Regions from separate parts of the Homo sapiens genome. Here regions 2, 3 and 4 are each reported to be linked to region 1. Evidence: microRNA targets listed by miRTarBase, many of them from high-throughput screens and not tested one by one. Region 1 holds a microRNA gene; each other region holds the end of a gene's coding sequence.
Evidence for each region. Region 1 holds the annotated microRNA hsa-miR-921 (CUAGUGAGGGACAGAACCAGGAUUC, at 2,200-2,224, shown strand). A microRNA usually pairs through its seed, bases 2 to 8, with sites in the 3' UTR of a target mRNA and lowers its output. Matches are read on the target gene's strand: a 7mer-m8 pairs with bases 2 to 8, a 7mer-A1 pairs with bases 2 to 7 and ends in A, and an 8mer does both.

Region 2: miRTarBase lists PTCHD3 as a target of hsa-miR-921. Seed matches in the 3' UTR shown: 7mer-A1 at 1,616-1,622.
Region 3: miRTarBase lists G2E3 as a target of hsa-miR-921. Seed matches in the 3' UTR shown: 7mer-A1 at 587-593.
Region 4: miRTarBase lists NR6A1 as a target of hsa-miR-921. Seed matches in the 3' UTR shown: 7mer-A1 at 2,082-2,088 and 7mer-m8 at 1,207-1,213.

The regions. Positions count from the first base shown.
Region 1 is chr1:166,153,759-166,156,996 of GRCh38, reverse strand. MIR921 (microRNA 921) reads left to right here and starts at 2,199; the gene lies at 2,199-2,254. All of the region lies in intron 1 of FAM78B (family with sequence similarity 78 member B), which reads left to right.
Region 2 is chr10:27,395,646-27,398,645 of GRCh38, forward strand. PTCHD3 (patched domain containing 3 (gene/pseudogene)) reads right to left here. Exons shown (of 4, transcript NM_001034842.5): 4 at 1,476-3,000. The coding sequence ends at 2,649. Among named protein-coding and RNA genes, the nearest start is that of PTCHD3, 17 kb to the right of the region's middle.
Region 3 is chr14:30,616,010-30,619,247 of GRCh38, forward strand. It overlaps G2E3 (G2/M-phase specific E3 ubiquitin protein ligase), which reads left to right. Exons shown (of 15, transcript NM_017769.5): 15 at 269-3,238. The coding sequence ends at 525. Among named protein-coding and RNA genes, the nearest start is that of SCFD1, 4.7 kb to the right of the region's middle.
Region 4 is chr9:124,520,071-124,523,308 of GRCh38, forward strand. NR6A1 (nuclear receptor subfamily 6 group A member 1) reads right to left here. Exons shown (of 10, transcript NM_033334.4): 10 at 1-2,723. The coding sequence ends at 2,635. Among named protein-coding and RNA genes, the nearest start is that of NR5A1, 14 kb to the left of the region's middle.

The DNA of each region.
Region 1 (3,238 bases):
TCCTTGTTCTCCTCTAAGCTGTAGACTTTGGGAAGCCTCCAGGACCCTGGCTGCTCCTAATCCCTAGGCATGATGCCTGCAGCCTAGCCACATCCTTATGGGGACTTCCTGTCCTATCCCTGAGCCCTTCTTTGGTAACAGTATCACTCAGGCTGGGGGAAGGAGCTACAGTTTGTCCAAGCCAAGGACTTGAGGGTGGGGTGATGCTGGAGCATGTGAGCCATGCTGTTCATGCTCAGGAAGGTTGTGCAATTTCCACCTTAGGGGGACAGTGAGACCAACACCTGAAATCATTTGTGTCCAAAGCTATTTTTAAGGTACTTTATTCTTTGCAGGTCCCTTTCATGATTTTTGTTTTCTTTATAAGGGGACCTCTCATAATTAACCTCACAATAATCATGAAACATGTAGGACAACAGTTATTCCTATTTCAGATAAGCAAGCTGAGGCCTAAGGAGATTAAATTATGTGCCCAAGGTCATCCTGGCAAGCACTGGTAGACTCAGGCCTGATGCTCAGGCATCCCACCTCCTCTCCCAGTGCCCTCCATACTGAGTCCATGATCAGCCAACCAAGAATGGGAGTCAGGGATGGGAGAGGTCATCCTCAGAGCCATGTGCATTGGGCACCTCTGGCTCAGACAGCATGTGGACACTTTTAAGGGCATCATTTATGATGTCTGAAGACAAGAGAGGGTAAACAGGACCACCTAAATGTCTTCAACAAGCGCAAAGAGAAATTTTCAGGCTGTCAGATTAAAACAAGATAAATAAGGCCATTTTGTTATTAAAACAAAATAAAGGATGGCACATCAACAGGGTCACTGTGCGAGGCCTGCCTCGCAAAGCCTCTGGCTGGCTCCTGCTCCTGGGGCCTGACCTTTCAGAGCTGGCTGGTGGGCCTGTGTCCGGCACAGGCTCTCAGAGGCTGTTAGAGGCCTGGCTAATGGGAAGCGGTAAATCGGCATCCGCAGTCAGCACTTTCTGCAGCATCCCGAAGGAGCAGGCAGAGGCTTCTGGGGCATGTGTGGCGGCAGGTACAGGCTTTGGCAAGTCCAAGAGCTGCCAGAAACAGGCAAATTAGATGTTGCTTTGCCCTCTGCATGGGGGCTCAGGCTGGGATATGTAGGGGAAGAGAGGCGTGAAGGGAATCAGACATGCCCGTTCTGTGAGAGCAGGATCTTACTTACCTTCTATTCCCTCTCCCGAGACCACACACGCTGAGCCTCCATTCCAAAATGGCAGTCCCCACACCTGAGCTGGGCAAATCAATTCAAGAATAGATTTTTTGTTATCACTTAATGATTTGAGAATCTGTTTCAAGCTTCCACGAACCATCTTCACTTTCTTTAGGAAGGATGAGTGATTTGTGCCACAAACTAACCCCCAACCTCCTGTTGAAGTTATTTTCTTGACGTTCAGAACCAAGGAGCCTGTCTTTTGCTAAGAAACCTGCACACACTGAGTGATGGGCAGCTATGTGCTCGTCTGTCTCCCCGTGAAACCATGAGCAACTTACTCAACTTGATGATGATAACAACTAGTGTGTGCCAGATGCTTTAGATGCACTGTCTGTAAAGTAGGTAGCACCATTATTTTCCTCATATTAGAGATGAAACGGAGGCCTACAGCGGTCGGATAACATGCCCAGCATTACTCAGCTAAGTAGTGCCAGAGCCAGATTTAGAAAGCAGGTCAAACTAATTCCTGTGACTCCTTATGATGTTGTACTGCCTCATAAGGGTTGAATGAATGAATGTCCAAATGAATGAATGATCAGGAAGTATTCAGGATATTGCTTGAGTGTTTGCTTTCGTCCTTGCTGAGGAGACTTGGGAAACAAAAGGTTTAAATCAAATTGGAAATGACTAGTCTCCTTGCCTCCCAGCTGCCTGGTTCACTCAGCTGCTCAGGATGTGATAGTAATGAAACCAGGGTCTTGGGATCAGACCCAGGGGACCATCCCAGCACCAGAGGCAGTCCTCTGTCCTTTCAGCTACCTCACAGGTGACTGTTACCAGCTACCAGTCACAGCAGGGTCTTGATTAAAGAGTAGAGAAATGGCCAGAAGAATGCAAGTGGTAGATCAACAGAATCATTTTTAACTTACAGGGTGTTAGGATGGTGCGGGAAATCATCTAGCTCATTTGCTTCTTTTACAGATGGGGACGCTGAAGCCCAGAAAAGGGCAGTGCCACAACTAGTGAGGGACAGAACCAGGATTCAGACTCAGGTCCATGGGCCTGGATCACTGGCTAATTCTGTGGGTCAGGGCTGGAGGCACCCAGCACACCTAGTCTTCAAAGCAGCAGTCAGTGGTCACCTCCCCCTGTTTTTTCATCACTGCCTGCCCCTGCCCCCCAGCCAGGTTTGCTGAGGGTCCAGGTCTTCAGGCAGAGATGGCCACCTGCCCAGGAAAGGAAAGTGCACAGGGTGCAGGAAGAATCCATCCCTTGGCAGCACAGAGAGGAACTCACATCAGCCCAAGGGATGTCTACACAGTTGCCAGGAGCAGAGAGTCCAGCCTGTTTTCAGTGTCTATATGCAGTGATTAGCAAGCAAGAAAGAAGAGGGTCTCCCCAGAGACACCTGTCACAGATGGCAGGAGATGGGAGGGCTTGGCAGCCCAAGGGAAGGGGAAAGTATGGAGAAATTGAGATTTAGCCGGGATTCCCAACAACCCAGAATCCCTTTCTTCCACCCCTCAATACCCCCCTTACCCTAGCCCTGGTGCTGATGGCATGCATGGCCCTCCTGGCCCCTACCCACACACAGGCAAGGTATCTTCCTAGCCCCTGGCAGCTCTAGAAGAAATAAGATCCAAGTAGCGTCAAAGATGACAGATTGTGAGGGGGCCAGGGGCCCTCCCCTGACAGCAGGGCTCAGCTGGGAGGCCTCTGTGGAGCAGAACAGATGGGAGAAGTCTGAGAGGGATATCCTAGCAGCCTGGAGACCCTGTCTCTGTTGTGGCTTTTAGTTGGTTTCAGTCAATTCTTTTGTCATTGTTTTGTTTTATTGAGGCATTTCAGCATAGGGGCATGATCAAATGGTGCTGTGTCTGCTCACCCTAAAGGAGGTGGGGTTGGGGAAGAATGGGAGGGAACAGGTCTAGGCAACACCCCATTTTGCTTTGCCCTTGTTGGGATCTAAGGGGGGTATAGAGGGAGGACTGCAGAGGGAGACGAGTATATACCTCCGAGCATCCTGCCATCACTGCCTGCCTGGCTTACTCTAAAGCT
Region 2 (3,000 bases), not on the chromosome of region 1:
CCAGGGAGGGGGGTGTGAGACAAGGGCAAATAAAAACGCCACAAAATTTTCCTACCATTTTTAAGTTGCTTTTTTTCTGATTTGGTGTCCACTTGGTTGGTGTAAACCTTGGACCGTTTTCAGAGTTCAATTAGAGTCTTTTCTAACAGTTGTTGCATTTTTCAATTTTTTTATTTTTGTGATGAAATGGGCTCTTGGAGCTACATTCTACCCCGTTTATGCTGACATCACCCCAAATATTTTTGGTGAGGAAAAGAAACTAATTTGGAATTGACGTCTAGGAGAGATAACTAAGGAGCTGGAGCCACTGATTGCAAAACAGCAAAAACATGGCTAAAGCCTTTAGGCAAGGTCACATTTAAATAGCCAGCGTTTCTAATCATTAATACAACTTCTACACTGTTGCTGTTTTTCACTTTTCCCAACCCATTGGTTGGTGTGATGAGTTAAATTCAAGGCCCAAAACCAACAAGTTCCAGGGTAAAAGTGAATTGCTTTGTTACAGTATAGTTTTATGATGATGAATACCTTCTTTAAAAAAAGCAATGTTGGTTTATAGAGTTTAAGATAAAAAAGTAACCAAGTGTTGGTATGGTGGCTCACACCTGTAATCCCAGCAGTTTTGGAGGCTGAGGCGGAAGAATTGCTTGAGGCCAAGAGTTCAAGACCAGCCTGGCCAATGCAGAAAGACCCTGTCTCTTAAAAAAAAATTAAAACAAAAAATTAGTCAGATGTAATGGCATGACTGTAGTCCCAGCTACTCAGAGGCTGAGGCAGGAGGATCACATGAGCCCAGGAGTTTTAGGTGCAGTGAGCTATGATCGCACCACTGCACTCCAGCCTTAGTGACAGGGTGAGACTCTGTCTCAAAAAAAAAAAAAAAAAAAAAAAGAACGTAACAAAGATAAACTTTGAAATCAGAAAGATTAATAAAAATAAAAGTGGACAACATACACAGCCTAATTTCAGTAATTAATAAAAAGCTTCAGTAATGAAGGCTGTGTGGTGGTATTGGCCTTAGAGCAGACAAACAGATCGATGGCACAGAATTAGAACCACACATATATTGTCAACTGATTTTTTTTTTATATAGATGCCAAGTTAATCCTATCCTGAATGACAGTCTTTTCACAAATGATGCTGAGACAAATGGGCAGCTTTTATGAAAAGGGAATGGACCTCTATCGATACTGCCCAACAAATACATGCGTATGGATCACAGGCCTAAATGTAAGATCAAAACTATTAGCTTAGAGGAGAAAACAGAGATGACTTTAATTGTAACCTTGGAGTAGTCAAAATATTTCTTAGGATAAGAAGGCACTAACCATGAAAAAAATATGATAAATTGGATTTATAAACTTTAAAAACTTCTTATCGAAATATACCATTAACAAAATGCATAGAAAAGCCCCTGAATGGGAAAATAAATGATAAGATGCATTTTCACATATGAATGCATGTAGCAAGTGCAATGAAAATAATATTCCATTTATAGTATGAACAATACATACAATAGTTGAATTTCAGGCATAAATATAAAGGGAAAAAATAACAGAAAAGTTGTACCTTGTACTTGATTGTAAAGACTGTAAGAAAGATAACACTTCCTAATTTAGTGAAGATATTTTAACATAAGACTAATTAATTTTTATCAGTATATTTTAAATAATAATTTAAAATGGGATTTCCAAGTCAAGGAAACATGCCCTTGTTTTTGGTTTGTTGACTTTTTTTTTTTTTTCTGAGACGGAGTCTCATTCTTGTCACCCAGGCTGGAGTGCCTGGTGCACTCCAGCTCACTGCAACCTCCATCTCCCAGGTTCAAGCGATTCTCCTGCCTCAGCCTCCCAGGTAGCTGGGATTATAGGTGCACGCCACCATGCCTGGATAATTTTTGTATTTTCAGTAGTGTCGAGGTTTCACCATGTTGGCCAGGCTGGTCTCGAATTCTTGACCTCAGGTGATCCACCCACCTTGGCCTCCCAGTAGTTTGTTGACTATTCTTAATAGTGCATTTAAAAAAATCAGATTGGAATAGGGCAATCAGGAATTCTAGAATTGGTCTTTGACTTGTTAGTGGATATTCAAATAAACCTTCCAAAAAAGGTTAAGAATACTGGAATAAAAATTAGGCCATGAGCTGCCCCAAATATCATAACAAGAAACATAATCTTAAAAAATGTTCTGAAGATGTATGCTTTCGCTGCAGCTAAAACACACACCCCTATTATTGTTGAAATTGCACTTTGTAACACTGGGTAGCCTAGAAGATACAATGCCTCAACTGATTTTTGGTTTACTGAGGGTTGAGAACTAGAAACAAATGCATAGGAAATGTGTACAGAAAAATCGAAAGAAAACCCTATACAAATGACAAGATTAATCATGGATATGGAATCAAGATTGACTTTCCAGAATGCCATGAAACCCGTTACCCCTACAATCACAGAACCAATAGCAAAAGTCACCCACAAGGAACACAATGGATAAGGGATTAACAATAAGGAAACAATGAACATAGCTGCTGATGCAACCAATACATTTCTAACAGTGTCTTCTAATATTGCAGCATACTGATCAAAATATATAAATGCCTGGTTATACACCATTAGGGGAATTTGACAGTCTTCAGCTATGCGTCGTAATTAGAATAACAATATTTTCTTTTTGGCTGAGGAAGAAACATCTGTTGTCTGAATGAAGCCCCGGGAAGAAATGATTTCATTTGATGAAGAAATATTAATATCATGCTGAAAATTTGGAAAATTGCTTAAAAAATCAGGAATATTGTTCATAAAAGTATTCTTCTCATTAGGATCTTGGCTGTTACCTTTTAAATATTGCACATATGCATCTAACCAAAACTCTGTAAGATTTTTATCTACATAGACATTTTTTTCAAAAATTTTAGTACAGTTTTCCAGTTTTTGCCTAACATCTTTATCCCAGTAGTCAACTTTTTTAGTAACAATAACCATAACCCTGGGACCATAATCT
Region 3 (3,238 bases), not on the chromosome of region 1:
TTACCGTTTAGTCTTTCTGTCTGTATTTGTTATATACAATAAGTAGTTGTACTAAATGATTGTATTAGTCCTTCTACTTTGAGATTCATTTATGTACTGTTTGCCTGTTACTACATCTGACTTTGTGATTTAGTTTGCCCAAAACAAATGTGGGAGTCTGTGCCTTTCAGTATTCCAAGTCTATTTGGAGAAGAATCTATGATGATAGCAATATATAACATGGATTTACTTTTGTTTCTTTTACTCTTTTATTGGTAAATTTTTTCAGATGGTAAATCTACAACAACAATGGAAGACATTCTTATTTTTGCAACTGGTTGCAGTTCCATTCCTCCAGCTGGATTTAAACCCACTCCTTCAATTGAGTGTCTGCATGTGGATTTTCCTGTTGGAAACAAGTGTAATAACTGTTTAGCAATTCCCATCACCAATACATATAAAGAGTTTCAAGAAAATATGGACTTCACCATAAGAAACACTCTAAGACTAGAAAAGGAAGAAAGTTCTCATTACATTGGACATTAAAATGTTTCCTTGAACAAAGAGAAGCTTCTTTAAAAGCTGCTATTGATAACTCTCTTTTATTTCACTAACCTTTTCATCATCACTTTGAACAAACTAGTTAGCTTCTTGACCTAATAAAATTTATGATATGAATATAAAGGAATATTATAGCCACTTAGGCTAAAAAAAGGTTTTTTTTGTTAAAGCATACTAGTCAAAATTGGTGATAATTTCTCATTTTCTTGATATAGATACTTCATAAACCTCAATATAAATACTCTCAAAATGGTTGTATGGATTTTATTTAGGTATGGTAGCATGGTTAATAAAAGTAAAAACTGTTTTACTCACATTTTTTGTAAATTAGGATTACATATAGAATGCCACAATTTCTCTAGGTTTATTCAATTTTCAAATTATTCCTCATTTTATTTTAAAGCATTAAATAGAAAAGCTAATTGGTTAAATTTTGTTATATAAATCAGAGTCATATATTCTGGGATTTGTGTTACTATGCATACTTTTCTAGGATGTCACCAAATTAGTTGTTTAAAATGTTTTTAGATTACTGATTTATATTAAGATGACCCACACTGCAATTAGATTATGCCTAGTGGGAAGTATTATATAAAAAGCAGAATTAAGCTGGGCACATGTGCTTGTAATCTCAGTTATAAGGGAGGCTGAGGTGGGAGAATCGAGATACTCAGCCAGCCTGGCAATGTAGCAAAGACTCCATCTCAAAAAAAAAAACAGAATTGCACAAATTTTCTGGAATCTATGGACATTCCATGAGCTTAAACACTTTTGAGGTGGATAACATTTAGTTGAAAATACCTAAGAAAGTGTGTCTTCTTTAAAGCCTTGGCTTTAATCATGGGAAATTGTTGTTGTTGTTGTTGTTGTTTGTATCCTATGTTTGGTATTCTGTATGTCTGATCCATAATCATTTTAGATATTTGAATGATCTCTGTGGATTGGTAGGTTTGGCCATTTGACCATTATTTATTATCAAGTTGGTTGTATGCTAAGGTAAGTTGACGCCATAGCATTATACAGTTATCTTCATTGCTCTTGAATGATATCTGTTATATAAGCAATGTATAAATAAAGTAAAAAGGATAGAATGAAAAACCCATTCTAATGTCACCACTCAGAGATAAGTACCGTATTTCTGTGTATCCTTCTATAAACTCTTTACTTCTGTTTCCTTTATTTTTTAACTTTAATAATGCTACTAAAAGACAATACCTAAAAGTAACTGTACTAACAAAGTGCTAACAATGTGAAAATATATAGTCCCATAGTCATGTCCCCATATTTATACTCCCACAGAAGAAAAAATTGGAAAACAAAGTCTGATGTCCTTAATCTATTAACATATTTAAATGATATAATGGTTCAGTTTTCCATGAAAGTAAATCATTATGGGAAGTAAAATGTTTTAACCATATTTTTCTTAATACACAAAGCAGGTGTCAGCTGTTGTATTCTCACCCTTCTTAAGAAAAATCATTACATTATTGATATTTTTTAAGTAACAGAATAGATTTGAAAGAGATAATATATCTCTTAATACCAAAGGAAAACTAAAACATAATTCTAGTGTACTTTTCTTTGTTCCCTCATGTCTTTTTCAATCTGTACACTAACATACCTAGCAAATTTGTTTTACTTTAACTTGAAATATTTAAGAACATTAAACAAGACATTTCTTTGGCTTTGGTTGAATTTTTTTGTCTCACCAATAGTAATTGAAAGATCAATTATCAAAGAGTTTGAATAGCTAATATAAACCCCAAAGTCACCATACAGTTTTTATTCCAAATATGTTGATAAAAAGATATTTGTTTCTTTATCCACCTTATTTTTATTACAGCTAAAAACCAATACAAACCAATAAAACCTAGTTAAAGCTATTTTCTGGTTTTTAGTTGCAATTAATTTCCCCTAGGGTAGAAATTAAAGCTGATTAAGTCACACACACATACTTTGTTGGGGTGGGGGTGGCAGGTGGAGAGGCAGTGTACTTGGGTTAGCTACAATTAAAAACAGTATTTCAATTCCTCATTTGACTTATTTTATATATAGACAGGGCCTTAGTGATAAGATGGTGTAAATAATTTAGGATATTCATGTTTTAAAGTGAAGCATAAATATTTATTTTGCAAAATGTTTTCTAGTTTGAAGGATGTTCCATTATTACCATTTTTAGATTAATCTGTATGGTCAAGGAATATCAGAGAAACCTGTAGGTTATTTATTTTCTGCAGTGTCATTTTGTCAAATGGTTGGTATTATAATTGTTCTTTTCTTATTAATTTTATAACCAGTGCATAATTCTTACATTAGATTTTAAAAAAGAATTATGCTATAAATCTTTATAAATGTGTACATATATTTCTTAAATATTGCAATTGCCTAAATGTTGTATATTTTAAGGCTGTTTTCTCTTGCTCTTAATGTTGAGGAAAACTATAAATTGATCTATAATGCATCTACTGTTAATGGTTTTGGTTAGTTTGATATTCATTGTTTTTAAACACTTTCCAATATGGAAACTTTAACACCTTTTATACAATTCTCTACTATTCAAGATATTCTTTAAAATATCTCACCAGAAACTTACAATTTTATACTTTGTAATTTTTAGTTTCTGTAATTTGAGGAAGTGACTTTTTTTGTTTGGGTTAAGTAAAAAGCCTTTGATTGATTACCAGCATGAGAATTCACC
Region 4 (3,238 bases), not on the chromosome of region 1:
CAAAAAACAAACACACCAAACCTCCCCTCCAACCTTTCTCCGTGTCCTTCAAACCAAATTCACAAATACATCTAGTGGCTGACCTAATGTCTCCACGCTGCTAGCTACACTCCTACCTTCTCCTCATAATACCTGAGTTTGCAATGCAACACATTCACTTTACCCTGTTTAAAAAAAGCCCACGTCATAAAAGGACTGGTGCAGAAGACATTAAAGACGGTCCACAGGTCAGGCTCCGGCTCGGAACACACAGCCACTTTGCTCTGAGATTCTGCAGGGCTCTCGGCAATGAATGGGCTCTTTGTTCTGTGGAATCTGCTGCAAACATTTGTAAAACTGGATTTGTACAATGGCAACTTGCAGAACCTTTCCCCTACTCCACAAATTAACAACTTGCTCTGTTCAATACTACGTTGTTGGAGAGACATGTTCTTGCCTCATCAGAGAGCAATTTCTTTTGACACCCAACACAACGGGTAAAATGTTTAATTTGAAAAGCAATTTCAAAAATAATAATTGGACAGATAGAGGCCTCAGCAAAGAACGATGCTGTACACAGGAGCTGTCTTAGAGAAGGCATCTGTGATATGTGTCTCCTTCCCGATCTGGAGGAAAGCAGCTCAGAGTCTGACCTGTGGCCAAAGAATGTGATCTAGTTGGTTAAATAAAATTCAGGGGAACAAGTATCGTGAACTTAGAAATAAACAGATACACACGAACACACAAGAATCTTCCCACTGACGTGAAAAACATGCTAGCTGGAGCTTTTCCTGAGGAACATGTCTCTTCCTTCTCAGAGCAACTGGGGAAACGGCATTGAGGAGTAATGTTCCGAGTTTTAGATCCATCAAGGGCCAAAATCATCACTCTGCTGGTACCCGTAACATTTCACCAGAAAGAAACAATTACAATCAGACATGGACTACCCAGTATGCACACGACGTGGTGCCCTCCTGGGTAGCTTTACTAGGTTGAGTTGAGGAGACAGCAAACAGCCTTTGACTAAATAGGCAGAAGAAGGTGCCGTGGGCCCTTCCAACCTACCCAGGCATGCAGCCAACTAAGTGGTCTGCTTGCCACACTGGCTGTGAAAGATACCTGGGTGTAGGCAGGACAAGCACCTGAAAGAGTTCAAAGACAGACCTGGTGTAGCGCTGGCCAAAGTCAAGAGGGTAAGGAACACGTCCTGGGATAAGGTGGGGCAGGTAGTGAGAGGTCAAGGAGTCCAGGCCATGTCTGCAGAGGTAGCAGCCGGGCCATTAGGAACCTGAGGTAGTTTAAAGCCCCCCTTCCCTTCCAGGTGCTTCTGGCTCCAGCCCTCCAGGCCTTGGCTGGCCAGTCCACTGCTGAAGTAAGGGGCAGCTGAGCCACTCTGGGCCTTGGGCTTTGTGTCCTGGGTCCCTGAGGAAAACTGGTCTCACTCTGGAGAGAAAAGGAGAACTTGGAGAAGAACTTAGGGGCAACATTTCTGGTCAGCAGACAGGTGAATGGTCCTTCTCATTGTTTAAAAAAGCCTGAAGTTTTCGGATTTAGACCTGAGGGTGCGGTAGGAAGGGGAGGGGAGAGGAACAGATTTCAAAAGGGGAGTGTCTATTCTTTTTGCAGTCTGGCCTTGCCCTACTACCCTTTGAAGAAAACAAGGTGAAAGGAGAATAAATCAGTAGTGGGCACCAGGCTTCAGAACATGGCATTCTGCTCAGCTGGTTTTTCAAAGGGCCAATAGGAAGTCAAATGTGTAAGGGAGTGGGAAGGAGGAAGGTGGGCCTCAGGAGATCCAGGTAAGGAAACTAGGTAGCTGGGGGCCCCGAGGGAGCTGGGAGGCGAGTCCTGTGGATCAAGTGATTGCCAGGACTTTGCCTAGATGGAAAGTTCGCAGTGGTAGACAATGATGGTGGTGCAGGGGTAAGGGGGGCAGCAAGGTGTGAGAACAGAAATTCTTCTGCCCTTAGGACTTGTTGGGTGGAAGGACACCTGCCTTAAATATGGTCACTGTGCCCTACTCTCTTAATTTTCACGCTTTCCAAGGAAAGGACGTGGCTCAATCCTCACCTCCTACCCTGTTGCCGTCTCACCAACCTTGCTTAGTGAATCTCCTAACAACACTTTGCCCCCTTACAGTGTGCCGTTTTATCTGGCAATTCTGTGGCTAAAAAAGGCAATTTGCTCTCTGACAGACAAATGTATGAGTCTGCTGAGAAAATGTGGAAAAAGTAGGGATGGCCACACCCCCCATTTCCATTGAGGTAGTCATCTTTGTCAACATTATGGAAATAGTCATCTTAGCCCCATCCCACCCTCTCCCTCAAAATACAAAAGAACTATTTCTAAACAATGACAACACTGTAACATTAAACATCTTCACATTCTGTAAACTGTAAGAAAATGCATTGGCTGCATTCACACAAAAGCATGTGCATCATGTTGAAGGCCATACATTCAACTCTGTCGTGAAATAAATATATAGAAAAATGAGGTTAAAAAAACAGACAAACAAACAAAAACTCTTCTTGCTATGGAGGCAACGGGAAATGCTGCTCCACAGCCTCCATCTTGGTCTCTCTGGCTTTTCCCTCCAGAGCCTGTCCTGCCCACCCAAGACGCTGTGGTTGGCCTGAGGAGGGCGCCTGGAACAGGTCATTCCTTGCCCACACTGGTCTTGCAGGAATGCAGCACCACCTTAAAGAGGAGGGGCAGCTGCTCCAGGGGCACATTCACCATCTTTCCTGGGAACAAGGGGGGAGAAGAAGAGTTAGCAGTGGTCACTCTAGTGGACAGGCAAGTCAGCCTCCTTGGGCTGGTGGAGGCAGAGTATCACCTTGCTGAGTGACTGGGGCAAGAGAAGTGCCAGGAGTATCACAAAGGTTGGACACACTGGGCTAACATCCTAACATCCAGACCCCTTTGGGTGCCCAGGGAGCCTAGTAATGGTGCCAACTCATCATCATTCTACTACTCAGGGAATACTTAACTCTGTTCTAGGTGGTTAAATGCATTACCTCGTTGAATTCTCACACTATTTCTGTGTACTACTTTTTACCCTCATTTTATAGATAAGGAAGCTGAAACTGACAGGTAGTCCAAAAAACTTCTGTCCTGTTTTCTTCACCCCCTCAACCCCCGGTAGATTTTCTAAGTAATATTCTATAAAATATTGCACTTCAGAATGGTTTAATAGGTTAATAAAAGTACTAGGGGAAAAAGAAGCAGGGGTAAAGAGGCAAATACATTTGAGAAACTC